Linked DNA regions of Homo sapiens: region 1 is linked to region 2. The links come from fine-mapping of genetic effects on gene expression. A gene starts in region 2. The other region holds a variant in brackets. All regions are shown on one strand. Distances are from middle to middle. Region 1 overlaps MARK4 (microtubule affinity regulating kinase 4). Region 2 holds the start of SIX5 (SIX homeobox 5).

Region 1 (14,546 bases), 480 kb before region 2:
GCGCAATCTTGGCTCACTGCAAGCTCCACCTCCCGGGTTCATGCCATTCTCCTGCCTCAGCCTCCCGAGTAGCTGGGACTATAGGTGTCCACCACCACGCCCAGCTAATTTTTTGTATTTTTAGTAGAGATGGGGTTTCACTGTGTTAGCCAGGATGGTCTTGATCGCCTGACCTCATGATCCACCTGCTTTGGCTTTGGCTTCCCAAAGTGCTGGGATTACAGGCATGAGCCACCGCGCCTGGCCCGCTCCTAGATTTCTTACATCTCAGTTTTAGAATCCAGCCCAGGGCTGAGTGCAGTGGCTTACGCCTGTAATCCCAGCACTTTGGGAGGCTGAATTGGGTGGATCACTTGAGCTCTCAAGTTCGACACCAGCCTGGGCAACATGATGAAACCTCATCTCTACAGAAAAATACAAAAATTAGGCTGGGCGCAGTGGCTCTTGCCTTGTAATCCCAGCACTTTGGGAGGCCGAGCTGGGTGGATCACCTGAGGTCAGCAGTTTGAGAGCAGCCTGGCCAACATGGTGAAACCCTGTCTCTACTAAAAATATCAAAATTAGCCGGGTGTGGTGGTGAGCACCTGTAATCTCAGCTACTTGGGAGGCTGAGGCAGGAGAATTGCTGGAACCCGGGAGGCAGAGGTTGCAGTGAGCCGAGATTGTGCCATTGCACTTCAGCCTGGGCGGCAACAGCAAGACTCTGTCTCAAAAACAAAACAAAACAATTAGCTGGGCATGGTGGTGTGCACCTGTAATCCCAGCTACTTGAGAGGCTGAGGTGGGAGGATGGTTTGAGCCTGGGAGGCCGAGGTTGCAATGAGTCCAGATCGTGCCACTGCACTCCAGCCTGGGCGATAGAGCCAGACTGCCGTGTCTCAAAAAAAAAAAAAAAAAAAAAAAAGAATCCAGCCCAAGTGTTAGCTAGAATCTCCTTGGTCCACTCATCAGGATCAGGATGGAGCTCTGATATCGAGTCCAGTTGGGATTAATCTGCTGTAATGGGGGCACAGGAGGACACATTGCACAAAGTGGCTGCTGAAAGCCTGCGCTCTGACCTCCCCTCCACACTGAAGTGAGGGAGGAGAGAGGTGTCAGGGAATCTGAGACCCAGCATGAGCCCCACACGGGAAGTGGTGCTTCTGCCCTACCCCCACCATTGCTGGAGGTCAAACCATTCCCTGCCCCTGCGTCTTGTCTTTCCCACCTGTAAAATGACAGGGCGTGCCCAGAAAGTTCCTAAGGAGCTTGTGACTTTGGTATCATATGGTTAGAACGTGGTAACCTTCAGAACTCCCCACACTGAGACCTGAGTTCCAGGGATTCTCAGAGAGGGATTGCTGGCAGGTGCCAGGTATCTGTCATTGTCATTGTAGAGCTCTCAGCTTGTGGTTCTGGGACTTCTGAGCATGTATCGCTCCTGAGGATGTAACAAGCAGACCTTCTGACCCTCTCAAGTTTGAGATCACTTTTCACCCCCGGGTTCTAAAACAGTAGATTCCTAAGATGTTCCTAGAGACCAGAATTATTTTGTGTTGCTTTTGAAATTGTTCATACAATAACATCCTTGAAAATGTGTTAGTTTGGAAAGGATAGACAGTGAAAAAGTCTTCATCCAACACATATCCCCAGCTCCCAGTTTCTCAAATGCAGCAACTGTTACGGTTTTTTGTTGTTGTTTTTGTTTTGTTTTTTGACGGAGTCTCGCACTGTTGCCAGACTGGAGTGCAATGGTGTGATCTCTGCTCACTGCAACCTCTGCCTCCCAGGTTCAAGCGATTCTCCTGCCTCAGCCTTCCAAGTAGCTGGGATTACAGGTGCATGCCACCATGCCCAGCTAATTTTTGTATTTTTAGTAGAGACAGGGTTTTGCCATGTTAGCCAGGCTGGTCTCAATCTCCTGACCTTGTGATCCACCCGCCTTAGCCTCCCAAAGTGCTGGGATTACAGGCGTGAGCCACCGCGCCTGGCCCTGTTATGGGTTTTAATATGAATTCCTTTGGAGAGATTTTATTCATAAACAAACATGTAAAGAGATAAATATGGGACCGGGTGCGGTGGCTCACGCCTGTAATCCCAGCACTTTGGGAGGCCAAGGTGGGAGGATCGCTGGAGTCCAGGAGTTTGAGACCAGCCTAGACAACATGGCGAAATCCTGTCTCTACAAAAAAAAATACAAAAATTAGGTGGGCATGGTAGTGTGTGCCTGTAGTCCCAGCTACTTGGGAGGCTGAAGTGGGAGGATGGCTTGAGCCTAGGAGGCCAAGGTTGCAGCAAGCTGAGGTCACACCACTGTACTTCAGCTTGGGCAACAGAGTGAGATCCTGTCTCAATAAAAAAATTAAAAAAAAGAAGGAAACTTAAGATATATAAAAACAATAAATTCTCCCCTTTTGAAACAAGTTATAGTCCTTTGGAGATATTCATATATAAGCAAGTAGATATAGATACACACTTTTTTGCTTTTGTAGACAAATGATAACACATTGTTGACCCATCTCTTGTCTTGCCTTTTCTACTTTCCAGTCCGTCATGAAGATCATTCTGTACTGGTGCATAAAGTGCTTCCTTATTCTTTTTTATAGCTGCATAATTTTCCACTGTGGAAATACCTTGACTTATCTAGTCATTCCTCTACTAAGGGGCATTTAGGCTGTTCCCAGTCTAATGGTACAGGCCAGGTGGGGTGGCACACACCTGTAATTCCAGCTACTTGGGAGGCTGAGGCAGGAGAATTGCTTGAACCCAGGAGGTGGAGGTTGCAGTGAGCGGAGATCGCACCACTGCACTCCAGCCTGGCAACAGAACCAGACTTTGTCTCAAAAAAAAAAAAAAAAAAAAGAAGGTGCAATGAATGGCCTGTATGTGCATGATGTCATTGATTTGGAGTTTCTAAGTCAGTATATGTGCGTTGGTAATCTTGAGGTAATTTTGACAGATATTGTCAGAATGGCCCACACAGAGATTGCAACCCACGTGAGGAATTCTCAGGTTCCAACGATCCCCCAGAGTCAGTTCTGGGTTTCCGTGGTGATGCCAGCTCTAAACGGTACCCCCTCCCCCAGGTGGCCCATCCCCTGCACCCCTGCACCCCAAACGCAGCCCGACGAGCACGGGGGAGGCGGAGCTGAAGGAGGAGCGGCTGCCAGGCCGGAAGGCGAGCTGCAGCACCGCGGGGAGTGGGAGTCGAGGGCTGCCCCCCTCCAGCCCCATGGTCAGCAGCGCCCACAACCCCAACAAGGCAGAGATCCCAGAGCGGCGGAAGGACAGCACGAGCACCCCCGTGAGTGACCAGGGCTGGGGGGCAGGGCTGGGGGCGCCACCTGGGCCACATTCCTCAGGCCCTGCCTTCATCTCATTCCCCAGACGGAACTCCTTCTTACCAACTCCTTCTTCTACCCATTCATTCATTCAACAAACATTTATCGAGTGCCTCTGTTTGCCTGAGCTCAGTTTATACACTAACATTTGATGTTAGCGTATAAATTAGTGTTCTGTGTCAAAGAAGTGCAGAACGTACTCTTGGCAGAAAGGATTTAATACAGGAAATTAAGTGCTTTTAAAAATGTGGGAAAGGCCAGGCACAGTGGCTCATGCTTGTAATCCTGGCATTTTGGGAGGCCGAGGCGGGAGGATCACTTGAGGCCAGGAGTTCAAGAAGCATAGCAGACGCCATCTCAACTAAAAATCAAAAAAATTAGCCAGGCATCATGTTATGTACCTGTGGTCCCAGCTACTCGAAAGACCGAGGTGGGAGAATCACTTGAGCCCAGGAGGTTGAGGCTACAGGGAGCTGTGTTCCCGCCACTGCACTCCATTCTGGGTGACAGAGCAAAACCCTGTCTCAATAAATCAATAAATAAAATATTAATAGTAATTTAAAAAATCAGGCCAGGCACAGTGGCTTACGCTTGTAATCCCAGCACTTTGGGAGGCAGAGGTGGGCGGATCACTTGAGGTCAGGAATTTGAGACCTGCCTGGCCAATATGGTGAAACCCCGTCTCTACTAAAAATATAAAAATCAGCTGGGCGTGGTGGCGGGCACCTATAATCCCAACTACTTGGGAGGCTGAGGCAGGAGAATCGCTTGAACCCAGGAGGCGGAAGCTACAGTGAGCTAAGATTGCGCTACTGCACTCCAGGATAGGTGACAGAGTGAGACTCCATTTCAAAAAAAAAAAAAAAAAGCCAGGTGCAATGGCTCATGCCTGTAATCCCAGCACTTTGGGAGGCCAAGGCGGGCAGATCATGAGGTCAGGAGATCGAGACCGTCGTGGCTAACACAGTGAAACCTCAATTCTACTAAAAATACAAAAAATTAGCTGGGCATGGTGGCATGCACCTGTAGTCCCAGCTACTCTGGAGGGTGAGGCAGGAGAATCGCTTGAACCCGGGAGGCAGAAGTTGCAGTGAGCCAAGATCATACCACTGCACTCCAGTCTGGGTGACAGAGCAAGACTCTGTCTCAAAAAAAAAAAAAAAAAAGTCGTGGGAAGCAGCAGCAGCTTCCCCAGCTCCTCAGCTCTTCCGGCATCTACATTCGGTCCCACTCCCTGCTCTTCTGCTCTGCACATGTTCAGTAGCCGCCCCACGTGGCTGTGCCCTTGGCCTTTCGAGGCTGGTCACGGCAGGTTACTACCAGTCAAGTCCCAGCCTTGACCAGGGTGCACACAGGTGTGAGTCTGAGCCAATTGTGGGCCTAAACTTTTAAAAGTATGGGTCACCTGCCAGGCGCGGTGGCTCACGCCTATAATCCCAGCACTTTGGGAGTCCGAGGAGGGTGGATCATGAGGTCAAGAGATCGAGACCACCTGGCCAACATGGTGAAACCCCATCTATACTAAAAATACAAAAATTAGCTGGCTGTGGTGGCGCATGCCTGTAGTCCCAGCTACTCAGGAGGCTGAGGCAGGAGAATTGCTTGAACCCAGGAGGCAGAGGTTGCAGTGAGCCGAGATCGTGCCACTGCACTCCAGCCTGGTGACAGAGCAAGACTCTGTTTCAAAAAAAAAAAAAAAAAAAAAAAGCATGGGTCACCACCCACACAGACACAAAATACTTATAGTTATCCTTTACCATAAGATTTTGCTCTTTAACAAATAAGTTGGCTGGGCACGGTGGCTCATGCCTATAATCTCAGCACTTTGGGAGGCCCAAGGTGGGCGGATCATGAGGTCGGGAGTTCGAGACCAGCCTGGCCACCATGGTGAAACCCCATTTCTACTAAAAATACAAAACTTAGCCAGGCGTGGTGGTGCACGCCTGTAATCCCAGCTACTCAGGAGGCTGAGGCAGGAGAATTGCTTGAACCCAGGAGGCAGAAGTTGCAGTGAGCCGAGATCACGCCACTGCACTCCAGCCTGGGCGACAGAGCAAGACTCTGTCTCAAAACAAAACAAAACAAAACAAAAAGTCATAAAAATTAAGTTTTTAGTCAGACATGGTGGCTCACGCCTGTAATTCCAGCACTTTGCAAGGCTGAGGTGGGTGGATTGCTTGAGCTCAGGAGTTCGAGACCAACCTGTGCAAAATGGTGAGACCCCTTCCCTACAAAAAATAGAAAAATTAGTCCGGTGTGGTGGTGGCACGTGCTGGTAGTCCCAGCTACTTGGGAGGCTGAGGGAGGAGGATCACTTGAGTCCAGGAGGCGGAGGTTGCAGTGAGCCAAGATCGTGCCACTGCACTCCAGCCTGGGAGTCTCCAGAGGGAGACCTTGTCTCAAAGAAACAAACAAAAAAGTTTTTAAATACTAATTTTTCTCGTACGTTCTTGAGAACATTCATCTTTTTAACTTCTTCTTAGTGCTCTTGGTGCCCCTGGGTACTTCCAGTTTATTTTGGTTCTAAACACCCAAGGCAAACCAAGGTCTCACTGCATGGCTGTTTGCGAGGTAGGGGTGTTTCTCCAGAGGTCCTGACCATCAGGAGGCACCCAGCCGTGGTGGCTGGTGGTGTCTGGCTGTTACCAGCATTCACCAGCCTTGACCGGCTTTGACTGATTGTGACTGGCCTTCACTGGCAGTGCCTGACAGGGCCCCACTGAAGCTTTGACCACAAGTGTCCACCTGTTACCAGTGGCAGCCAGCTGTGGCCAGCATTAACCAGCCTTTACTGGCAGTGTCCAGCCATGACCAGTATTAACCAGCAGCAACTGACTGTGACCGGCTTTGACCAGCCTTGACTGGCCGTGACAACCCTTGGCCAACGGTATCTGGCTGTGACCAGTGGTGTCTGGCTATTACCACTTATGACCAGCTTTAACTGTCCCTGACTGTTGGTGACTGGCCATGACCAGCCTTAACTGGCTGTGACAGGCTTTGACCAGCAGTGTCTGGCCATGACCAGCAGTAGCCAGCAGCAACTGGCAATGACCGGCTGTGTTTGGTTTGGCTAGCTGTGACCCTGCCACCACCTGTGAGGACTGCTAGTCCAGGTTCAGGGCCCTGGACTCCAGGGCTGTGCAGAGCCCGGGGTCAGTACAGGGAGGGGAGTGGAATGTTGTGAGGGAACCCCGTGGGGATGGGCCAGGAGAGGGTGCACCTGAGGACAGCTCACTGGCTACCTAACAGCAGAAGGGCCTTGGGGAAACAGATCTTGAAGGCATCAGCTCAACTTCAGGCAGGTGGCACAGGAGGGAGGCCGGGATGCCTGTGTGTCCTGAGTATTCCGGATAAGTACAAATTCATGCCCCTTGGCTCTTCCCCAGCCCCGAGACCTGGAGCTTCACAATGCAGCCTCTGAGGCCCGTGTGTCAGAGAATGATCCACAACCCAGAGAATGGATGGGAGCGGCAGGGCCAAAGAAGGAGAGGATGAGGTGGTTAAAGAAAAAAGAAAACAAAATTGTAGGAAGGACTGGAGGAGCGGACAATGGGTGGGATTTGTAGGAACAACAGTCACAACCACACCACAGAACTGACCCACCAAGGGAGCTGCTCCTTCTGAGGCTGCCCCAGCACTGGTGAATTCAAGAGTGCATTGTTAGGCCAGGCATGGTGGCTCATGCCTGTAAGCCCAACAGTTTGGGAGGCCGAGGCGGTGAATCACTTGAGGTCAGGAGTTCAAGACCAACCTGGCCAACATGGCAAAATCCCATCTGTACAAAAAATACAAAAATTAGGGCCAGGCGCGGTGGCTTACGCCTGTAATCCCAGCACTTTGGGAGGCTGAGGCGGGCGGATCACGAGGTCAGGAGATCGAGACCATCCTGGCTAACACGGTGAAACCCCATCTCTACTAAAAATACAAAAAATTAGCCGGGCTTGGTGGCGGGCACCTGTAGTCCCAGCTACTCGGGAGGCTGAGGCAGGAGAATGGCATGAACCTAGGAGGCGGAGGTTGCAGTGAGCTGAGATTGCCCTACTGCACTCCAGCCTGGGTGACAGGGTGGGACTCTGTCTCAAAACAAAACAAAACAAAAAACCACATTGTCATGGCTGTAACCCAAGACTCAAAAACTTCATCCTCCATCAGAAGAGCTTCTTGATGCCCAGAGGGCTGGACAATAGGCACTGGGGCCCTGCTGAAGCAAAGACCTTCATCTCATAGCCTTGCCTGTGTGAGCTGAAGTCAAAGCAGGCAGGAGAGCAGCTGCTGCCCCATTTCCACCTTCCAAATCTTCATGAATGCAAAGATTGGCAGAACCCAACTTATATGCAGAACCTGAGCTGCAAAGGATTCTGGGAAATGTAGGACTTGGCTTTTTTGCATCTGAGTTCCCAAGAACAGCAAAGTACGAAAATATCCTCAACATAGGAACAGGAGAGTGGAGGCAGAGCTGGACATGGTGGCACACACATGTAGTCCCAGCTACTTGGGAGGCTGAGGTGGGAGGATTGCTTGAGGCCAGGAGTTCGAGACCAGCCTGGGCAACATGGTGAGATCCTATCTCTTAAAAAAGAGAAAAAGGGTGGAGGCAGTTTGAGAAAGTGGCCGGGACTCTGAAGCCACGTAGAGTTTGAATTACATTAATGAGCCGTGTGACCTTGGGCAAGTAACTTCACCTCTCTGATCTTTGATATCTCACTATGTGAAATGGGCTCATTAAAGAACCTGGGTCATTGTGAGGATCTTGTAAGATCTCATACGTGAAGTACTTCACATACTGGCACAGTAAGCACTCAGTGAATGAGAGCTATTGTTATTGCTAAACGAAACCCACACCTTAAGAAGGTAAAAAAGGAAAAGCAAATAAACCTCAAAGAAAGTAGAAGGGACCGGAATTGGTGGCTCATGCCTGTAATCCCAGCAGTTCGGGAGGCTGAGGCAGGAGGATTGCTTGAGCCCAGGAGTTCAAGACCAGCCTGGACAACATAGACCCTGTCTCTGCCAAAAATAAAAATTAGCTAAGTGTTGTGGCACATGCCTGAGGTTCTAGCTACTTGGGAGGCTGAGGTGAAAGGATCCACTTGAGGCCAGGAGGTCGAGGCTGCAGTGAGCCATGATCACCCCACTGCACTCCAGCCTAGGCATCAGAACAAGACCCCATCTCAAAAAAAGTAGAAGGGAGGAGGCATTAAAGAGAATAAATCAGTGAAGGAGAAAGAAGAGGTACAATAAAGCAACAAAACCTAAAGTTGGTTTTTTGAAAAGATTAATAAAATCAGTCTGGGCGTGGTGGCTCATGCCTGTAATCCCAGCACTTTGGGAGGCTGAGGCGGGTGGATCACTTGAGGTCAGGAGTTTGAGAC[C/T]AGCCTGGCCAGCATGGTGAAACCCCATCTCTACCAAAAATACAAAAAATTAGCTGGATGTGGTGGTCCACACCTGTAATCCCAGCTACTCGGGAGACTAAGGCAGGTTCACTTGAATCTGGGAGGTGGAGGTTGCAGTGAGCTGAGATCATGCCATTGCACTCCAGCCTGGGCAAAATGAGTGAAACTCTGTCCAAAAAAATAAATAAATAAATAAAATCCAATGGACCCCTGGTAAAAATCAATTAAGGAAAAAAGACAGCAAACATGAATCACCAGTATCCACAATGAAAAGGGGAACTTTGTTCTAACATTAAAAGATAGTAAGATGATATTAGGAACTACTTTGTGCCAATAAATTTAACAGCTTAGATGAAATGGACACATTACTTTAAAAACACACTGTATCAAAACTGACACAAGAAGAAATAGAAAACCTGAACAGTCTTATATTCTTGTTAAAGAAATTGAATTCGTAACTGAAAACCTTCCCTATAAAGAAAATTTTTGGCTTGGATGACTCCCACCAGTGGAATTCTTCCAAACACTTAAAGAAGAAATAACACTAACCTTAGACAAACTTCCAGAGAATAGAAAAAGAGGGCTCTCTTCCTAACATGTTTATGAGGCAGCATAATCCTGATATTCCCTGTGTTCCCAGAGCTCACAGCCCAGTATGGGATGGGGACATATATGAGAACAGACATTGACAGCACAGTGATTGAAGCTGCAGTGGGGAGCCCAGGGGCCTGTGGGAACCCAAAGGAGGAGGCACGTGACTCAGCCTGGGGCCGGGGGTGGTGGTAGATTATGAACTGACACCTGAAAGATATGTAGGAGTGAGTCAGGGGAAAAGGTAGGAGTAATGTTCTAACAGGTGAGACAGCCAGTGCACAGGCTAGTCACAGTGACAGAATGTGGCATGAATAAGTACATTAGCAAACGTTTGGTGTGGCTGGGCTGGACCTCAAGAAGGTGGGCATTGCTGGGAGAAGAGCGGTGGACAAGGATGCCCCCTGGAAACCTTCCCTGCCTCGTTTTCCCTCAGTGCCCCCCTCTTCTCCGGTCTCCAGGGGTCTCCCCTGACTCAGCCTCGGTGGCTGGGATTACTCATGAACCTTTCACATCTTTGGGACCTTTCACCATCTCCTACTCACCCTGGGTTCCCACATGAGCCCCTGACTTATTCATCGATGGGGAGGGCAGAGAAGGGAAGAGGGAGAAGCTCAGGGGCATGTCTTCACCCCCTCACTCCCTTCCTGGCTGTGTCTCCTGCAGAACAACCTCCCTCCTAGCATGATGACCCGCAGAAACACCTACGTTTGCACAGAACGCCCGGGGGCTGAGCGCCCGTCACTGTTGCCAAATGGGAAAGAAAACAGGTACGGAGGGGGCAGCAACAGGGTGAGGGGTGGGAAGTAGGGGGTAGGTGAACAGGACCTCCCTTGATCTGAGATGATAGGCATTGGAGGCTGGTGCCATGGGGACCAGAGAGTGAGTGTATCTGCCCTGCCCTTGGCAGAATCGACCCATGTACCCCCCTGAAAATCCTCCCCACTTAATTAATTAGTCTTAAGCACCAGGAAAGCAGTTGGCCCTGTTCTCCGCCTACAAGCCTTGGGAACCTGAATTGATTTTTTGAATGATCCATTTTTAGAACTCGAGAGAAGCCCCAGAATGTCACAGCTTCAGCGTCATCTGGTTGGCTGGTTTTCCGGCTTGTTGGCCTGAGTCTGTGAGGTCTCTTCCAGCTGGCAAGGGAGGGAAACCAGTTCAGACTGGCTGGAGCAGAGAGAGGGAAGGGATTGGTTCACATCACAGGTCAAGGCCAGCTAGAATGGGGCCAGCTCCAGGATGAGGACACTGCCCCCCACCAGGGCTGTAGGGCAGGTTGATGGCCAACACCAGGGCACACTCTGGGATGCACCTGATTAGTGGGTGCAGGTGTTCCCACTGGGTGTGGGCAGAGGAATGGGGTAGTTAACAGTCACAAATCTGTCCAGGCACAGTGGCTCATGCCTGTAATACCAGCACTTTGGGAGGCTGAGGCAGGTGGATCAAGAAGTCAGGAGATCGAGACCATCCTGGCTAACATGGTGACACCCCGTCTCTACTAAAAATACCAAAAAAAAAAAAAAATTAGCTGGGTGCAGTGGTGGGCACCTGTAGTCCCAGCTACTCTGGAGGCAGAGGCAGGACAATGGCGTGAACCTGGAAGGCGGAGTTTGCAGTGAGCCGAGATCACGCCACTGCACTCCAGCCTGGGCAACAGAGCGAGACTCCATCTCAAAAAAAAAAAGTCACGATTCTGTGAATACTCAGTTCTGAGTTCGAATCTTACCTCTGTGCTCACACTGCTAGCAGAATGACCGGGTAAATCCCTGTGCCTCTGTTTCCTCCTCGGTAAAATGGGCTTGATGCTGGCCGGGCATGGTGGCTCACACCTGTAATCCCAGCACTTTGTGAGGCCGAGGTGGGCAGATCACCTGAGGTCAGGAGTTCGAGACCAGCCTGGCCAACATGATGAAACCCTGTCTCTACTAAAAATACAAAAATTAGCCAGGAACGATGTCATGTGCATGTAATCCCAGCTACTCAGAAGGCTGAATGAGGCAGGAGAATCGCTTGAACCTGGGAGGCAGAGGTTGCAGTGAGCTGGGATTGCGCCACTGTACTCCAGCCTGAGCCACACAGCAAGAATCCGTCTCATAAAAAAAAGGGCTGATGCTGTCCACTTCCAGGCCCCATTATAGAGATGCAGTAGAGATCAGGTGTGTCCTGTACCTGGCACTGGGTCTGATGCTTAGGAGGCCTTCATTCAGTGACTTGAGAGTGCTTTTTTTTGGTGGTTATCAAATAACAATAGTGAACATTCATGAAGCAGCAGCTACATGCCAGGCTTCTATGTCTATTGCCTGGCTCAGTGCCCCTAACAACTCTGTGAGGTAGATCCTAATATCTCCATTTTACAGCTGAGGACATAAGGCACAGAGAGGTTAAGTAACTTATCCAAGGCCACACAGCTGGTAAGTCAAGAAGCAGATTCCAGACTTGACTCCAGAATCTTATTTGTAATCACTGTAGTACATGGCCTTCCAGTTCTGCTCAAGAGATAGTGGAACAGTTAAATTACAGACTCAGACAAAAAAAATCAAAAATTAAAAAAAAATTTAAAAACAACAAAAAATAAAAAGTATAGACTCAGCTAGCTGCTGTAATAAAAACAAAGAGATCCCAGGGTAGAGTAATTTAAATAAAAAGGACGTTTAGTCCGGAGGGTCCTCCAAGGACCCAGGTAAGTTCTTCCAGCCCCAAAATGAGTTTCCAGCTCTGGGACTGAGGCCGCTGCACCAGCAGCCATCATTTCCCAATCAGGAAGAAGTGGGGAAAGAGTAGGGGACAAGCAACAACTCTTTGTAAAGGCGTCACCCAGAGATGGTACAGAGCACTTCTGCTTATATCCCATTGGCCGGAGCATGGTCACATAACCATCTCTAGCTGCAAGAGAGTCTGGGAAATGTAGTCTCTGGCTGGGTGGCCATGTGCAGTGCTCATACTCTTAGGGGTTTGGTTACCAAGAACGAAACAGGGAGGATGGATTCTAAGGGAGAAGTAACAGCCTCTGCCACAATCAGGATTCTTCTCTGAGATCCAGGCTGGGCCTGGAGTCCCTGGGAGGATAGAAATTGGAGGTCTGGGCTGGGCGCAGTGGCTCACACCTGGAATCCCAGCACTTTGGGAGGCCAAGGCCAGTGGATCACCTGAGGTGAGGAGTTTGAGACCAGCCTGGCCAACATGGTGAAACCCCATCTCTCCTGAAAATACATAAACTACCCAGGCGTGGTGCTGCATGCCTATAGTCCCAGCTACTCAGGAGGCTGAGGCAGGAGAATCACTTGAACCCAGGAGGCAGAGGTTGCAGTAGCCAAGATTGCCCCATGGCCCTTCAGCCTAGGTGACAGAGTGAGACTCTGTCTCAAAAAAAAAAAAAAAAAAAATTAGCCAGGCATGGTGGCACACGCTTGTAATCCCAGCTACTCAGGAGGGTGAGGCAGGAGAATTGAACTCAGGAGATGGAGGTCTGGCCCCTGCTGTCGACTAGGAGGGTCCGAGGGGCTGGAGGAGGGTCCTGGGACAGTGGAACCCCCACTGCCCAGATTACCATAGTGAATACAGGTATCCTTGACCTTTACATCTATCCCTTTCCTGATTTTAGATGGTGAGAGTTCAGATAGCAAAGTGTTTGCCAAGTTGATTTGGTTCCTGAGGTTTCGGCAAATAGCAAGGAAGTCACCCAAAAATGTCTGTGCATCTATTCAGTTGCTGCGTTTAGAGAGAGGAGAGTTGTGATAGGAGATGATTTGGAGCGGGTAGAGTTTGAAGAAGGGACAGTTTGAAGGAGGGGTAATAGGAGAGGAGAGAGTCAGTAAAATAATGCTAGGATTGTATAGTGCACAGCCTGCACAACTGTACGTTGCAGCCCTGTCTCTGAGTTCCAGGCTGGTTGCAGTCCCTGGTCTCAGGACAGGAATGTGAAGAATCAAAGGGACTGGGGCCCTGGCCTGCCTCAGTCCCCCACCCTGACTTGTCTGTCTCTGCCCACAGCTCAGGCACCCCACGGGTGCCCCCTGCCTCCCCCTCCAGTCACAGCCTGGCACCCCCATCAGGGGAGCGGAGCCGCCTGGCACGTGGTTCCACCATCCGCAGCACCTTCCATGGTGGCCAGGTCCGGGACCGGCGGGCAGGGGGTGGGGGTGGTGGGGGTGTGCAGAATGGGCCCCCTGCCTCTCCCACACTGGCCCATGAGGCTGCACCCCTGCCCGCCGGGCGGCCCCGCCCCACCACCAACCTCTTCACCAAGCTGACCTCCAAACTGACCCGAAGGTGAGCTCCGCGGGGATGGCAGGGGCAGGGCGGGGCGGGGGGCCGATGGGACCTAACCTGTCTTCCACTCTGCTCTGTCTCCTGTACCCCAACATTTCCTCTTCCTCCTCCTCCTCCTCCTCGTTTCCTCCTCCTCCTCCTCCTTTCCTCCTCCCCTGTCACCCCTCACCTCCCTCCTCACACTGCAGGGTTACCCTCGATCCCTCTAAACGGCAGAACTCTAACCGCTGTGTTTCGGGCGCCTCTCTGCCCCAGGGATCCAAGATCAGTAAGTCCCGTCCATGCCCTGTTCTCGCTGGCTCTGCCTCCCTGCCTGCATGTCTGACCTGTGTGTGCGGGCATTGGGAGGGGGCTCTGTGGATGTGAGGGTCTGTGCGTGGGGTCTGGTTGTTCATTTACTCACAGAAGCACAGCCTATGGAGCCAGACTCGGGGGTTCAAATGGCAGCTCTGCCAAGTGACCTTGAGCAAGTCACTCAAGGTCTCTGGGCCTGGTTTTCCTCTTCTGTAAAATGGGTATAGTAATAACAATACCTGTCTCCTAGGGTTATTGTGAGGACTAAATGAAGTGACGTATGGACTGAGCGTAGAACATTGCCTTGGAAAGTGCTTTACATGTGTATTAGTTATTAATTGCTATTATTCATTGAGCCCCTACTGTGTGCCTGGCACTGTCCTAGGCCCTGTAGTAGAGGGTGAGCAAAATGTACAAAACTCCTGCCCTGGCAGACCCAACATTCTACTAAGGGATCTAGACAAAAAACAAAGAAATAAGTAAAATATACTTACTATATAGACTGCTAGGTAGTGCGAAGTAACTAAGAAGAAAAATAGAGTAGGAGCCAAATTTGGTGGCTTATGCTTGTAATCACAGCACTTTGGGAGGCTGAGGCGAGGGGATCACTTGAGCCCAGAAGTTCAAGACCAGCCTGGACAACGTAGCAAGATCCTATCTCTACAAAAAAGTAAATAAA
Region 2 (14,546 bases):
TAGAAAAGCAGTACTGGGGGGATGAAGGGGCACCACTTGTCTCCCCTCCCATCTTTCTCCCTCATCATGCCCCAGGACACAGCCTCCAAGGCCCCCAAAGACCCTCCTGAGTCCCACAGCCTGCACCGGTCCTCAGTCTCGCTGGACCACTGCTACCTCTCGCTGAGCGGGAACAGCAAGGCGCCATCCAGCTCCAGCTCCAGCTCCAGCTCCAGCTCCAGCTCGGAGGACAGCGACTCGGAGCCCCTGTGGAAGCAGCGAGAGGTGAGAGACACGGCCGCATGCCAGGGCCAGCAGGGCCTCCTTCCTCTCTCACCACCCTCTCCCTCCCCCAGGATATGCAGGCCAACCCTGTGGGCACGCCGGGCTCCAGCGAAGAGGACGAAGACACCACATGGACCCCCACCCGGCTGGCCTCACCCCTGCTGGCAGCTGAGAAAAAGGCCACGAAGGGCCAAGTAGCCAGGGCCCCTGTGAAGCCCAAGGAGAAGAAGAAAGGCCCCTGCCCACCCCAGATGAAGAAGAAGTGTGTCAACGGCTTCATCATGTTCTGCAGGATGAACCGGAAGCAGTACATCCGGTGGGTAGGGGGTCGTCTTTGGCCCTGGGGAAGGCCCTGGCTTCGTTCTCTGCCCGCAGCCTGGCCATGCCGCTCCTCACAACTGTCTGACACTTTTTCCCCCTCCGAGACCCCACAAACCCTTCGTGGACCACAGTTCTTCCCCAGAACTGAACCCGGCCCCATTGTATTGGACAGGGTCCATCCATTGTCAGCGCTGAAACCCAATTCAGGCTTTAGACTTCAGAAAAAAAGGAGTTTTTTTTGTTTTGTTTTGTTTTTTGAGACAGAGTCTCACTCTATTGCCCAGGCTGTAGTGCAGTGGCACAATCACAGCTCACTGCAATGTCTGCCTCCCGGGCTCAAATCACTGCAACCTCTGCCTCTCAGATTCTCCTGCCTCAGCCTCCTGAGTAGCTGGGATAACAGGCGCGCCATCAGCTAATTTTTGTATTTTTAGTAGAGACAGGGTTTCACCATGTTGGCCAGGCTGGTCTCGAATGCCTCACCTCAAGTGATCTGCCTGCCTCGGCCTCTCAAATTGCTGGGATTACAGGTGTGAGCCATCAGGCCCAGCAAGAAAAGAAAATGAATTGGCTTATATAACCTAGAAAACAAGGGCGGGTATAGACTGCCTTGAGACATAGCTGGTTTTAGGGCTCACACAGGCTGTCTGGAATCTTTGTCCTTTTCACCCAGTTCCTCTGTCTTCCGGGCTGGCTTCATTCTCTGGCAGGTGGGGTCACCCCAGGAGGCACAGGCTCGGGTCCTGTCCCCCACCCAAGCGACCCCGGGAGGAGGAGAGGTCTCTAAGGTTTTAAGCAAAGTCCTTGGGACTGACTTTGGTAGATCCGGTGCCAACCCTGAACCAGTCACTGCCAGGCCTGGAGCCAGGGGATGGGGAGGCCCCCCCCAAGCCACAGTGGAAAACAGCTAGTTCCTTTACAGGAAGATCCAGATGTGGGGGCCAGGAGCGGTGCCCACAGGTCCCCTGCACTCTCCTGGGACACCAGGTGCCCCCTTGTGAACAGCCGCTGAGTCCAGCTCCCTCTGCCTCCTCAGCTCCAGAGGGTGGTCTTGGAGGCCTTGTAGACCCACAAGGCTAGGAAGGGTCTGAGTTCTCAGTCAGGGTGTCCTGCAGACCTCTCCTTACCTCCTCCTCCTTCCTGTCCCAGATCCTGCCCTGGAACCGCTTCCACAGCTGCCACCAAGGAGCTGGCCCAGCTGTGGCGGGTGATGACCCAGCAGGAGCGGAGGCCATACTGGTGAGAGGCTCCGGCCCCGAGGTGTGGGTGGGGGGTGGAAGAGCCTCCCTACCCCGGAACCCTGCTCTGTCTCTGGAGCCTTGGGTGTCATGGCATGGGAGACTGGGCCGAGGAATTTGCGTGTTGCCCCTTCTTATGAAACCCTTGGGGGTGACACAGGTGTAGGGGTACCCCACCACAGCTAAGCTGGGGAACAGCTGAGCCCAGACATGGACCCCTGCCTCAATTCTTTTGCTGTCTCTGCCACACGACTTTCTCGGGGCGTGGTCTGATTTTCCTGTCGCTTGGCCACCTCGACTCCCCCGAATCCTGTCCCCTCCACCTTCAAGGAGCTGCCACCTGCCCTGGCTCCTGACTTTGAACACATCCCAGAGCCCTTGGCCGAGTCCCATCTTACTGACTGGGACTTGGTGGACCCAAGGCTCGCCCAATAGAGGCTAAAACGGTGGCCCAGGCCCCTGCGGGGACACAGGATTGGGAGTGGTACAGGGATGCCCGGGAGGCGAGTGAGGAAGCCAGGCCATCCTGCCACCGTCTCCCCAGCACCAAGGCTCGCAGGTTCAGCCGCCAGCACAACCGCATCGTGAAGCAGGACGGCTCCAGCAGCGAGGCTGAGGACTGGGAGACGCCAAAGCCCTTCTACCAGCTGCTGGCCGAGAAGGCCTTGCCGCTGCCCCCGCACCTCCAGTGAGAGGGCGGCCCCTCGCCTCGCTCCCCTCACCCCTCATGGCAACCGCGGCTCTTGCTGGAAGCCAGGACCCATCGATGAACTTGTCCCTCCTGGGCCTCCAGCCCCTGAGAATGCAGGTCCCATGGGACTGGGGAGGGGGGCACTGATTAGCCCCAACCGCTGGGCACATTTGCCTGGAGCACCAGAGTCACCCACAGCTGCCTTGATTCTCCCCCAGGCTTAGGAAGGAAACCCAAAATGAAATGCGGGGTGTCGGAAGGTGAAGTTTACCCACCCCTCTCCCCTTCCCTTCCCCACCCCAGAGCCACTCGGTTGCAACCCTGTTCATGCTCACCTCACCCTACTCCTCCCTCTCCTGTTCTATTTTTAGACTATTTATTGTTTTAAATAAAATAAAGCAAGTGGAACCTTTGTTACCAGCAAGAGAGACAAGGGCAGGCCCTCCTGCGTCCCCCTGCTGCCCCACTGGGGTGCTCCGTCCACCCTCATCTGGAGGCCTGTGGCTTGCAAGAGGCCTCAGTGCCACCCCCTCCCCAGCCACTCTGTGCATCTGAATGCAAACCCCTCTTCCCCTCGGGAGGCAGCAATGGGAAGGCCAGGTCTCGAGGTGGGCTCTGTGTTCAGCGCTGCTTTGGACAGACACTGGAAGGCACCCCAGACCCCTGGTGGTGGTGTAATCCGATAACTTTATTTTAATTGAAAATGGAGGCATAACATGTCCTAGAAAAATAAAGATTTAGGATACAAAGGAGACACAGCGGCAGGGCTGCCCCCAGGGATGAGGGAATCTTTGGTCTGGGCCGGATAATGAGGACAAGGGCTTGAGTCGAGGGGAGCTGGTGAAGGAAGACCCCCGTCTCCCCACAGCTGCCCCACCCCCCGCCCCTGGCAGGAAATGCCACACTGGGGAGGGTCTCCAGTCTCAGGGGCGCGGGGCTGCCTGTCCTCCACCTTCGGATTCCAGGCAGTTGTGACAACACCAGCTATCGGCAGAGCTATTAATAGTGTTTCAGGGAGTGACAGGGAGAGGGCTCTGGGGGCTGGAAGTCCGGCCCTGGGGCAGGGTGTTCCGCTTACAGCTAGTACCAAGTGGAGGGGGCAGGGCCCCTGAGTCAGGACCCTGAGTCCCCCACGTATATGGCAGGGCACAGCATGGGGAGGGCTGTAACAGAGAGGCCTCCCATCCAAAGGGGGATGGAGACCTGGACAGGAGGTGGCCGGGGATACAACCCCCAGCACCACCAGGGCTTGGAGAGGCCACCCAGGCAGAAGGATGTGGTGACTGGGGTCTTCAGCAACCGCATTTCTGGGGCTCCCCCCTCCCATTCCTGTCCCTGCGTCTTCAGCACCAATGTCGGGAGAGGCCACGGGGCCACACTGGGTCACAGTTCCAAGGGCTCCTCCACAGGCACCGACTGGAGCTGGGTCAGAACCTTGGCCTCAGCTTCCAACCCCTCGTCAACCTCACCCCCTGCGGTGGCCCCCAGGAGCAGCCCCTCAGGGTCGGGGTCTGGCAGCCTCAGCACGGTGTGGGGGGCCTGTGTCCCCAGCCCCTTTTCCGCTTCCAGCAGCCCCTCTGTTCCTGCGCTTAGTTCCAGCCCTGCTGACCAGACAGGCACGGCCGCGGGTGACAACATCAGCCCCTCTGGTGGGGGCGCCGGGAAGTTGGGCAGGAGGCCAGGGGAGTCAGGGGAGAAGGGCAGGCTGGTGCTGGAGGTGGTGGCAGCGGCGGGGGGTGGCTGCTGTGCAGAAAGGGTGCCTAGGGCGTGAGCCTCTGGGAGAGCAGGGCTGGGGGCCACCGGGAGGCCTCCCTCAGGCACGGAGATGGCCGTCTCTGGCTTCAGTGGCAGGGCCAGGCCGGGGGCTGGCGGCAGGACCTGGGAGACGAGCATGCTGGTGGGGAAGGTGGCGGTGAGGATGATCTTGCCCTGCTGCAGGGCCACACCCGTCACGATGGGGCTGCCAGACACAGGGTTGGCCAGGAGGAAGTTTCCTGTGGGGAGAGAGGGACCGAGCGCAGGTGAGAGCCAGGAGAGCAGGCCAAGCCAGAGAGAAGTGGAGACTGTGCAGCTGGAGGGCGGGCGGAGGGAGCCTTGTGGTGGGCCTTGGGGCACTGGGACTTGCCAGGGATGAGATGCCCTCCAGGAGCCCAGGGACAGCCCCTCCCTCTCCGAGATGACTGCACCCCTCCCCGGCTCTCACCTAGGCCTGAGGGAGGGAGATGGGGGTACCTGGGGCAGTGGCCGAAGGCAGCTGCAGGGCAGTCACGCCCACCCCGGAGTTGATGAGGTGCACATTGGCAGGGCCTGCTGCAGCTGCCACCTTCACAGGGCTGCCTGGCCCGGCTGCCAACAGCTGCAGGGGCCCCACAGCCTGGGGCAGGGTCACCACCTGTGAGGTGGGTACTACCTGGGGCAGGTTCAATAGTGGGGAGGTGGGGCTCAGGCCCGTGGGATACCCCGGGGGTGGGGAGAGCGGTACCACTTGTGGGGCAGCCACAGCAGGCACTGGCCCCGGGGGCAGAGGAAAGGTGGCAGCCGTCGGGGGGCCAGGCACCACTTGGGCCAGGGGCCCCAGGACCTCCTCTCCAAGGGCTGGTCCCGGAGCAGCCACCTGGGCCCCTTTGGTCTCAGGGGCCTCCGACTGAGCCTCCTCCAGCCGCACCTCCCCTGTCTGAGGGTCCAGGACCAGAGAGGTCTTGGTCTCGCTGGCCCCCTGAGGGCTGGGCTGCGGTGGAGGGGCACCCCCGCCCCCAGTGAGCAGCAGCGGGCCCAGGCTGGAGGCCTCGCCCAGGGCCAGGCCGTTGATGATGACGGGGCCCCCGTTGAGGAGCACTGCTGGGGAGCCGCTGGCTGCCAGGAAGCTCCCGTTCACCAGGATGGAGGAGGAAGCCGGGCAAGGCGCGGGAGGGCCGGTCCCTGCCAGGAATATGGAGCCCTGGGCAGCGGCCTCGGCGGACACTGGGGCCGCCCCTCTCTCCAGGTCCTCAGGACTTCGGCTGGACTCGTCCTCAGTCGTGGGATTCCCATCAGACTCGCTGGCCGGAGAAATGGCTGTCAGCTGGGGTCCCTTAGCCTGTGGGGCCTCCCGCATAGCCAGCCAGCTGCTCCCCCACCTTTCCCTGGCCCAAGTTTCGGTGGATCATTCCAGGGGTTATGACGCCTCTCTGAGACCACTCCAAACTCCAGGGCCTTTTGCAAGCCCTGCGTGGACACCACTGCAGAGAAGCGCTGGGGAGGGAAGAGGCCCTTGCTCTCCCCCACCTCGGCCTCGGGTCCCCAGAGGCTGAGCTCCCAGGTTGCCCTAAAAGTTCCTTGGTTGGGCGGAAAGCGGGCGAGTGGCCTGGAGAGAGGGAGCAGCAGCCGCCAGCCCAGTTCCCGGTGCCCTCCCCGCGGGGCGTCAGAGAAGGGAGAGGCCGGCGCTCAGGGTGGGAGGAGAAGGGTTTGGGTTACAGGGAAACCGGAGCTGGGAAAGGTTCACGTTTCACAACAAAGGCAGAAGACGGACCACGCCGTCCGGGCCCGGAGGGAGTGTGGGGGCGGGTGGGTAAGAGTAACGGTCAGTGAAGAAAGGGGGCTGGGAGGCAGCCCCTACGCGGAGTGGAGTGGCCACAGGCCCTGTCCTTTTTCCTCAGTCCCTCTAGTGCCCCCCGCAGTGTGATTCCCCAACACCGATGGGATTTGGGAAGGAGCTCGGAATGGAGCCGCTGGAAGAGGAGACGCGTGCGGGGAGAGGGCCCGGGCGGGTGCCTGTCCCGTCCACACTTAGTCCCCGCGCCCCGCGGGCGCCTGAGATTGTGAGCTGGTCCCGGGAGATGTCCGAGGACCTCGGCGCGCCGGCCCCAGCAGTGGGCACGGGGGAAGAGGGCTGGTGGACGGGATGTCCCCGGGAGAGCTGGACTTGCGCCGCCCGAGGCCCCTCACCTCTTGCAGGGCGCGCCGCCTCCGGCCCCGGTCCGGTCGCGCTGTCGCCGGTTCTTGAACCAGTTGCTGACCTGCGTGAGCGACAGGCCGGTGAGTGTGGCCAGGCGGCGCTTCTCGTCCGGCGTGGGGTAGCGGTTGCCGCGGTAGCAGGCCTTGAGCGCTGCGCGGGAGCGCTCCTTGAAGCAGTAGACTGTCTCCTCGCCGTCCCAGATGGTCTTGGGCAGCGGGAACTTCTTGCGCAGTCGATACTTGTCCACTGCGCCAAGCGCGCGGCCGCGGGCCCGCTCGGCCTCATGGTAGCGCGCGCGCAGGTAGAGGTCCTGCAGGAAGGCGTGGTGGGCGGCGGGGAAGGGGCGGCTCTCGAGTAGCCGGTAGAGCTCGGCGTACTCGCCCCGCTGGAAGGCCACCAGGGCCCGCGCGCGCAACACCGGGTCGCTGCCACGTAGGCGCTCGGCCGGGGGCAGTGCGCCCAGGAAGCGGCTCAAGCGGCCGGCGTGGCCCGCCTGGAGCAGCGCCTCGCAGACGCACGCCACCTGCTCGGGCGAGAAGCGGAGGCCCGTGGGCGGTTCGGAAGCGGCCTCGGGGGGCGACCCGGGGACGCCCGGGGATCCCGGGCCCTCAGCTCCCGCAGCCGCTGCGCCCGCCCCGGCCCCGGCCGCCGCCGCCGCCTCACCCTCGGCCGCCTGCAAAGTCTGCAAGAGCTGGCGCGCTTCCTCCTCCTCCTCTTCGGTCGCCGCCGCCGCCGCCACCGCCTCCCCCCCAGCCGCCGGCCCCGCGCTCGGCTCCGCAGGCAAGGTAGCCATGTTTTGCAACTTTGGGAAGTTCCTCCCTCCCTCTCTTCCTCCCTCGGGCTTTCCCCAGCCTCCTCCCCCACCTGTCCCCCCTTTTCGCCCCCACTCCCCGCTCTTCTCGATCTTCTTTCTGGCCGACCCTGCGCCCCACGCCGGGAAGGCGAGATCCAGCTCTCCACTCGGGTCTCTGTCCCCTTGTGTGTGTCCGTCCCCCTCCCGTCTGTCTGTGATTCTCCCTTTGTTTTCCCTCCGCCTCTGGCCGCGCTTTCTGCCTCCCCCCAGCGTGTGCTTCTGGCTCAGGGCCTCAGTTTCCCCATCGGGACAACGCAGAAGGTAACGGGCCGTCCAGGAGGACTAAGGGCGCGAAGCCTCCGCCCCGAGACTGAGCTTCTGCACGCCTCCGTCTCCAGGGTCCTCTGCAGGCCCCCACATTCCCCATCTCGGCCTGCGCTCCGCCCCTCGGAATTCCCGGCTCCGCAGGGGGGGCGGGTCTGGCCGGGAGGAGGGGCGGGGAACGGGCTAGAAAGTTTGCAGCAACTTTTCTCGAGCTTGCGTCCCAGGAGCGGATGCGCGTGGCGTGCGCAGGCGCAGTGGAAGGAGGATGGCCGCGCGCGCTGCCAGCCCAGCCCCCTCTTCTCGACGCTCGGTGGCACAGCTGGGCCACAGCTGGGCGGGGGCGGTGCCTCCGGGTGGCCCGCTCGCCCTCCTATTGGCCGGACGCCAAAGCCCCGCCCCGTGGCTTTTCCTCCCCCAACCCTGATTCGGCCGCTTCGCATCCCGCTAGCTCCTCCCAGACCTTCGGCCGCCTCCACACGCCTCCGGATTGGCCCGCTGCGGAGCCTCCGGCCCACAACGCAAACCGCGGACACTGTGGAGTCCAGAGCTTTGGGCAGATGGAGGGCCTTTTATTCGCGAGGGTCGGGGGTGGGGGTCCTAGGTGGGGACAGACAATAAATACCGAGGAATGTCGGGGTCTCAGTGCATCCAAAACGTGGATTGGGGTTGTTGGGGGTCCTGTAGCCTGTCAGCGAGTCGGAGGACGAGGTCAATAAATATCCAAACCGCCGAAGCGGGCGGAGCCGGCTGGGGCTCCGAGAGCAGCGCAAGTGAGGAGGGGGGCGCGGGATCCCCGAAAAAGCGGGTTTGGCAAAAGCAAATTTCCCGAGTAAGCAGGCAGAGATCGCGCCAGACGCTCCCCAGAGCAGGGCGTCATGCACAAGAAAGCTTTGCACTTTGCGAACCAACGATAGGTGGGGGTGCGTGGAGGATGGAACACGGACGGCCCGGCTTGCTGCCTTCCCAGGCCTGCAGTTTGCCCATCCACGTCAGGGCCTCAGCCTGGCCGAAAGAAAGAAATGGTCTGTGATCCCCCCAGCAGCAGCAGCAGCAGCAGCAGCAGCAGCAGCAGCAGCAGCAGCAGCAGCAGCAGCAGCATTCCCGGCTACAAGGACCCTTCGAGCCCCGTTCGCCGGCCGCGGACCCGGCCCCTCCCTCCCCGGCCGCTAGGGGGCGGGCCCGGATCACAGGACTGGAGCTGGGCGGAGACCCACGCTCGGAGCGGTTGTGAACTGGCAGGCGGTGGGCGCGGCTTCTGTGCCGTGCCCCGGGCACTCAGTCTTCCAACGGGGCCCCGGAGTCGAAGACAGTTCTAGGGTTCAGGGAGCGCGGGCGGCTCCTGGGCGGCGCCAGACTGCGGTGAGTTGGCCGGCGTGGGCCACCAACCCAATGCAGCCCAGGGCGGCGGCACGAGACAGAACAACGGCGAACAGGAGCAGGGAAAGCGCCTCCGATAGGCCAGGCCTAGGGACCTGCGGGGAGAGGGCGAGGTCAACACCCGGCATGGGCCTCTGATTGGCTCCTGGGACTCGCCCCGCCTACGCCCATAGGTGGGCCCGCACTCTTCCCTGCGCCCCGCCCCCGCCCCAACAGCCTACAGCTGTTGTTAGTCCACTCGCACGCCTCGAATCCCGTCCGAACTCGTCATTGGCTGCTTCCTAGCGGCCTGTGTTGATTGGCTGCCCGAAGATCCGCCCTCCTGCCGTGGGCCCAGCCCCGCAAATGCGCAGCTAAGCGGGTGGCAAGGGGCGGGTGGAGCGCGGGGCGCGACGGCGGAGGGGGGCGTGGGCAGCCGGACGTACCCTGGCAGGGAGCAGCAGGTGGCGGCGGTGCATGGGGCCTGGCCCCACCAGCGGGCACTGGCCCACAGCCACGGCCGGGGGGCCATCTAGCTGGAGAGAGAAGGGACAGGTGACCCGATCGGAGCCCAGCCCAGCCCTCAGCGGTGGGGCGAGAGACAGCGAGGGGAATCGAGGTTGGGGAGGTTATCTAGGGAGATCCCGGAGGGAATCTGGTGAGGCCTGAACGGAGGGAGATCTGGGGCTGAATAAAGGGCTTCTGCCCTCTAAAGTCGCAAAGACGTAGGGTGAGCCCTATATCTGGACGGGGAGACCAGGAGCCAGGGAGGGGATCTGCAGAATGGGCAGCAGGTCTGAGGCAGGGGAAAGAGAGGGGTCTTACATGGGAAGGTGGATCCGTGGCCCGGGGACTGGGGACCCCCGTGACAGCTGGAAGGAGAAGAAAGAGGCATAGGGCGCGTGGAGGGGCGAAGGAGGGCGGTGGCGCGGCGTGCCCCAGCGTGGGTCCCTTCCCTCCTCCAGGTGTCTATACACGCCCCGCGGAGCAGACGGCCCACCTCCTCCCGGTCCTCCGGGGAAGGGGACACATGAGGGACTCACCTGTGGCTCCCTCTGCCTGCAGCAACTCCATCCGCTCCTGCAACTGCCGGACGTGTGCCTCTAGGTCCCGGTTCCGAGCCTCTGCCTCGCGTAGTTGACTGTGGGGAGGTAAGGACGGTGAGTCCGTCCGGGCCGGACGAGAGGGGATGCCAAGGGTTGCCACCGGCCCGCATCCCGGCCCCGGCCCCGGCCCCGATCCCGACCTGGCGAAGTTCTGGTTGTCCGTGCGGATGGCCTCCATCTCCCGGCTCAGGCTCTGCCGGGTGAGCACCTCCTCCTCCAGGGCTTCCTGGAGCTCCCGCAGCGTCACCTCGGCCTCAGCCTCTGCCGCAGGGACAGCCGCTGGAACTGCCACTTCAGCCTGTGTATGGGGACCAGGCTTAAGGCTGCCTGTGGCTCCTGGAAGACTCAGGACTTGGGCACTGGTTCCAGGCTAGGAATCCTTGTTTATCCCCTACTCCTCCGTCCCCTCAACATTTCTGGAATCCCCATAGCTCCTGCAATGATCCAAGCCCCCTCCCTTCCCTACCTCCCTCAGCCCCATCCCTGAGTCTGGTCCTCTAAATCTACACAGGGACCAGAGGGCTGGTGCTCAAACACTAACACAACCTATGTCCCTCTGCTGCTCAAAATCCCTCCAGCTCCCTAATGCCCTCACGACAAAAGGCCTTGCTGGGTTTTGTTTCCTGCTGGCCTCTCCAGCCTTCTCAGGAATGATTCAGCCAAACTACCTTTCAGGAACAAATCAGGATTCCCACCTGCCCAAGGCCTTTGCCCTGGAGGCTCTCGCCTGACCACTTGGCACCTTTCCTTCCATGGCTTGTTTCTCCTTCACCAGCGCTCAGCTCAAAGATCGACTTCTCAGATCCCCAGCAACACACACACCCTTACTTAATGCCCCACTGTAACTACAGAGACCGTCCCATGTCTGAAGTAACCTCGTCTCTCCGTGGTTTCTGTCTGCTTCTGTTCAGGAAGTCCCTAGAGGGCTCTACAGTGCACGCCACCCGGGAAGCCCTCACCTTTTCTCTCCCAATTGTCCCTGACGGACCCCCTCCCCTCCACCAACTTACTGTTTCATCCTGTGGGGACACCGAGGGCTCCAGGCTGGGCGCTTGCACGTGTGGCTCAAGCAGCTGCTCGGCCTCCAGTTCCATGGGTGTGGGGCCTGGGACCTCACTGTCCCTGGGGAGAGGAGGAGGGAGTGGGGAGGGAGACAGAATGCTGATTCTCTGGTGGAGAACCAGAACTTCTGGCCTGTGGGTAGGGGCAGCTGCTTCCAAGACCTCCTGATTTGAGGAAGGGGAGCAGCAGAGCGAAGAGAACAGAGTCCCAGGTAGGCCAATAGCCCCTCCTCTGCTTAGGAAAAGCCCTGCCCCTCTCCTGGCCTTGGGCCCCTGGGAGCTGCTCTTTCTAAACCTTCTGCAGGGACTTGGGGTCCAGACCCCCATGTTCTAGGGTCAGCTCATCTCCTCCCTTGACATGTGACCGCTGCAGACCCCTCTTCTCAGGGCCTCAGGACAGGGAGGCCGACCTGATGGGGAGACTGCTTGGCTCTGGCCACCTCCACAGATGTGGTCCTAAGACTGGGCATGGGACCCCAAGATGGCAACTTGAGGTCAGCACACCCCACTCAGCTGTGGGAAGGGGACAGCTCCTCCCTGGGGTATGAAGTGGCTGTCCCCTCCAACCCAGCAGTCCCTCCTGTGGGAACACGGCTCAGGACCTAGCTATCCTGGACATGCGCCTGGGTTCTAATAGAGGATGGGTTCAATCCTGACCCACCGTTCAGGCCCCGCAGCGGTTCAGAATCAAGCTGGAGTTCATTAATGATAAGGTATAGTATGTGTAATGTTGTCCAGTAATAAAAGCTGACTAGAAAACCAACTGTTCTCTTAGACAAAGTAGCATGAGGAAGGGGAAAAAAACAAACCAAAAAAACACCTGTTCTCCACTATTTAAACATGTGTCAGTACACGTGTGAGCCAGGGACCACTGCCATCTGGTGAGCTCACGAGATATCAACTTCCTTTTCCTTATCTGTATTTTCTAATTTACTTGTGATAAGCAATGCATTATTTGTGTAATTAATACTTTTGTTGAGACCAGGTCTCACTTTGTTGCCTAGGCTGGAATCTATCATGGCTCACTGAAGCCTCAAACTCCAGGCTCAAGTGATTCTCCTACTTCAGACTCCTGAGTAGCTAGGACTGCAGGCACAGACCACCATGCCTGGCACGATTTTTTCAATTTTTTGTAGAGACAGGGTCTCATTATGTTGCTCAGGCTGGTCTTGAACTCCTGGGCTGAAGCAATCCGTCCACTTCAGCCTCCCAAAGTGCTGGGATTCCAAGCGTGAGCCACCATGCCCAGCCTGTAAATTAGTACTTTTTTTTTTTTTTTTTTGAGATGAAGTTTCACTCTTGTTGCCCAGGCTGGAATGCAATGGCACGATCTCAGCTCACCACAACCTCCCCCTCCTGGGTTCTGATTCTCCTGCCTCAGCCTCCTGAGTAGCTGGGATTACAGGTATATGCCACCACGCCTGGCTAATTTTGTTTTTTAGTAGAGATGAGGTTTCTCCACGTTGGTCAGGCTGGTCTCGAACTCCTGACCTCAGGTGATCCACCCACCTCATCCTCCCAAAGCACTGGAATTACAGGCGTGAGCCACCACACCCGGCCTAAATAAATACTTTTTTTTTTTTTTTTTTGAGACGGAGTCTTGCTCTGTCGCCCAGGCTGGAGTGCAGTGGCATGATCTCGGCTCACTGCAAGCTCCGCCTCCCGGGTTCATGCCATTCTCCTGCCTCGCCTCCCAAGTAGCTGGGACCGCAAGCGCCCGCCACCATGCCCGGCTAATTTTTTTGTATTTTTAGTAGAGACGGGGTTTCACCGTGTTAGCCAGGATGGTCTCGATCTCCTGACCTCATGATCCACCTGCCTTGGCCTCCCAAAGTGCTAGGATTACAGGCGTGAGCCACCGCGGCCCGCCTAAATTAATACTTTTAAATGGCCTTATTGTTATATGGCTGATTCAAAGAATTTGCATTCTTTTACAACTGATTGTAAAAGTCTAAACTTCATATTTTCCAAGTTCTGAAGTCCTGTGGCTCTGTGTACTACAGACGTAAAAGTTAATGGTTACAAGATTCTGGGAAGCCCAGTCTGTGACTCTGAGGTTTTAAAATTCAATCTAACATTTTGAAGTACATAGATCTGAAAATTTAAGGTCCTCCAACTCTGGCCTCTTAGGAGTCTTTGGGCCCAAAACAGTAAGGTTCCAAGACTGATCCTGCAACTCCATTGGCTGCCAAGGAGCAGGACCCAGGAAGCTCAAGCAGCCTCGTGGCCCCTGGAGGCCGTCCAGGGCAGTGCTTACCTGAGGGCCATGCAGGAGTAGGAGTAGCCCACAAAAGGCAGGTGGACCCCTAGCGGCGCACCTTCCCGAATGTCCGACAGTGTCTCCTGCGCAAGACACACAGATGTGAGCAGCAGTCGTCAGGGCGGGCCCCTCACTGCTTTTTGATCTTGGCTTACATGTTCCCCCCAAACCAGCCCCAACTCAGGGCTTATCTAAAGTGGCCCCTCCAGCATTTTTTCTTTTTTCTTTTTCTTTGATACGGAGTCTCGCTCTGTTACCCAGGCTGGAGTGCAGTGGTGCAATCTCAGCTCACTGCAACCTCCGCCTCCCAGGTTCAGGCGATTCTCCTGCCTCAGCGTCCTGAGTAGCTGAGATTACAGGCGCCCTCTACCACGCCTGGCTAATTTTTTATATTTTTGGTAGAGACGGGGTTTCGCCACGCTGGCCAGGCTGGTCTCCATCTTCTGACCTCAAGTGATCCGCCTACCTCAGCTGTTGTAGTCCCAAACTCTGGGCTCAAGCAGTCCTCCAACCTCAGCCTCCCAAAGTGCTGGGATTACAAATATAAGCCACTGTGCCCAGCCCAGTTCTGTTTTTTTTTTTTAGATGGAGTCTTGCTGTCTCCCAGCCTAGAGTGCAGTGGCACAACCCCAGCCCACTGCAAACTCTGCCTCCCAGGTTCAATCAAGCGATTCTCCTGCCTCAGCCTCCTGAGTAGCTGGCATTACAGGCATACGCCACCAAGCCTGGCTAAATTTTGTATTTTTAGTAGACACAGGGTTTCACCATGTTGGCCAGGCTGGTCTTGAACTCCTGACTTCCAGTGATCTGCCTGCCTCAGCCTCCCAAAGTTCTGGGATTACAGGCGTGAACCACCTTGCCCAACCCTTTTTTTTTTTTTTTTTTTTGAGACAGAGTCTCACTCTGTCACCCAGACTGGAGTGTAGTGGCATGATCTTGGCTCACTGCAAACTCTGCCTCCCAGGTTCAAGCAATTCTCCTGCCTCAGCTTCCCCAGTAACTGGAATTACAGGCACCCGAGACCACACCCAGCTAATTTTCTTGTATTTTTAGTAGAGACGGGGTTTCACCGTGTTGGCCAGCCTAGTCTCAAAACTCCTGATCTCATGACCCACCGGCCTTGGACTCCCAAAGTGCTGGGATTACAGGCATGAGCCACAGCGCCCGGCCGCGGTCCAGCCTATTTTTTTTTTTTTTT

What was found. PIP is the estimated chance that this variant, and not a neighbour inherited with it, causes the effect.
Region 1: its variant is fine-mapped to the expression of SIX5 in esophagus muscle (GTEx, PIP 0.96).

Annotation. Positions count from the first base shown.
Region 1 is chr19:45,284,382-45,298,927 of GRCh38, forward strand. It overlaps MARK4 (microtubule affinity regulating kinase 4), which reads left to right. Exons shown (of 17, transcript NM_001199867.2): 13 at 3,066-3,283; 14 at 9,968-10,071; 15 at 13,295-13,573. Among named protein-coding and RNA genes, the nearest start is that of CKM, 31 kb to the right of the region's middle. RefSeq lists a silencer at 7,253-7,455. The variant C/T (reference allele first, on the strand shown) is at 8,690.
Region 2 is chr19:45,761,604-45,776,149 of GRCh38, forward strand. It overlaps SIX5 (SIX homeobox 5), which reads right to left and starts at 7,649. Exons shown (of 3, transcript NM_175875.5): 1 at 6,439-7,649; 2 at 4,747-5,552; 3 at 3,182-4,508. The coding sequence starts at 7,241. The coding sequence ends at 3,898. It overlaps MEIOSIN (meiosis initiator), which reads left to right. Exons shown (of 15, transcript NM_001310124.2): 12 at 76-264; 13 at 336-580; 14 at 1,735-1,824; 15 at 2,368-2,938. The coding sequence ends at 2,515. It overlaps DMPK (DM1 protein kinase), which reads right to left. Exons shown (of 15, transcript NM_004409.5): 9 at 13,346-13,431; 10 at 11,038-11,149; 11 at 10,168-10,325; 12 at 9,965-10,062; 13 at 9,747-9,793; 14 at 9,368-9,457; 15 at 8,114-9,037. The coding sequence ends at 8,885. DM1-AS (DM1 locus antisense RNA) reads left to right here and starts at 6,193. Exons shown (of 2, transcript NR_147193.1): 1 at 6,193-6,528; 2 at 9,887-10,280. RefSeq lists enhancers at 5,368-6,003, 6,068-6,627, 8,119-8,198, 8,359-8,468, 8,909-8,988 and 2 more and silencers at 6,369-6,498, 6,949-7,168, 7,529-8,068, 7,920-8,104, 8,629-8,788 and 1 more.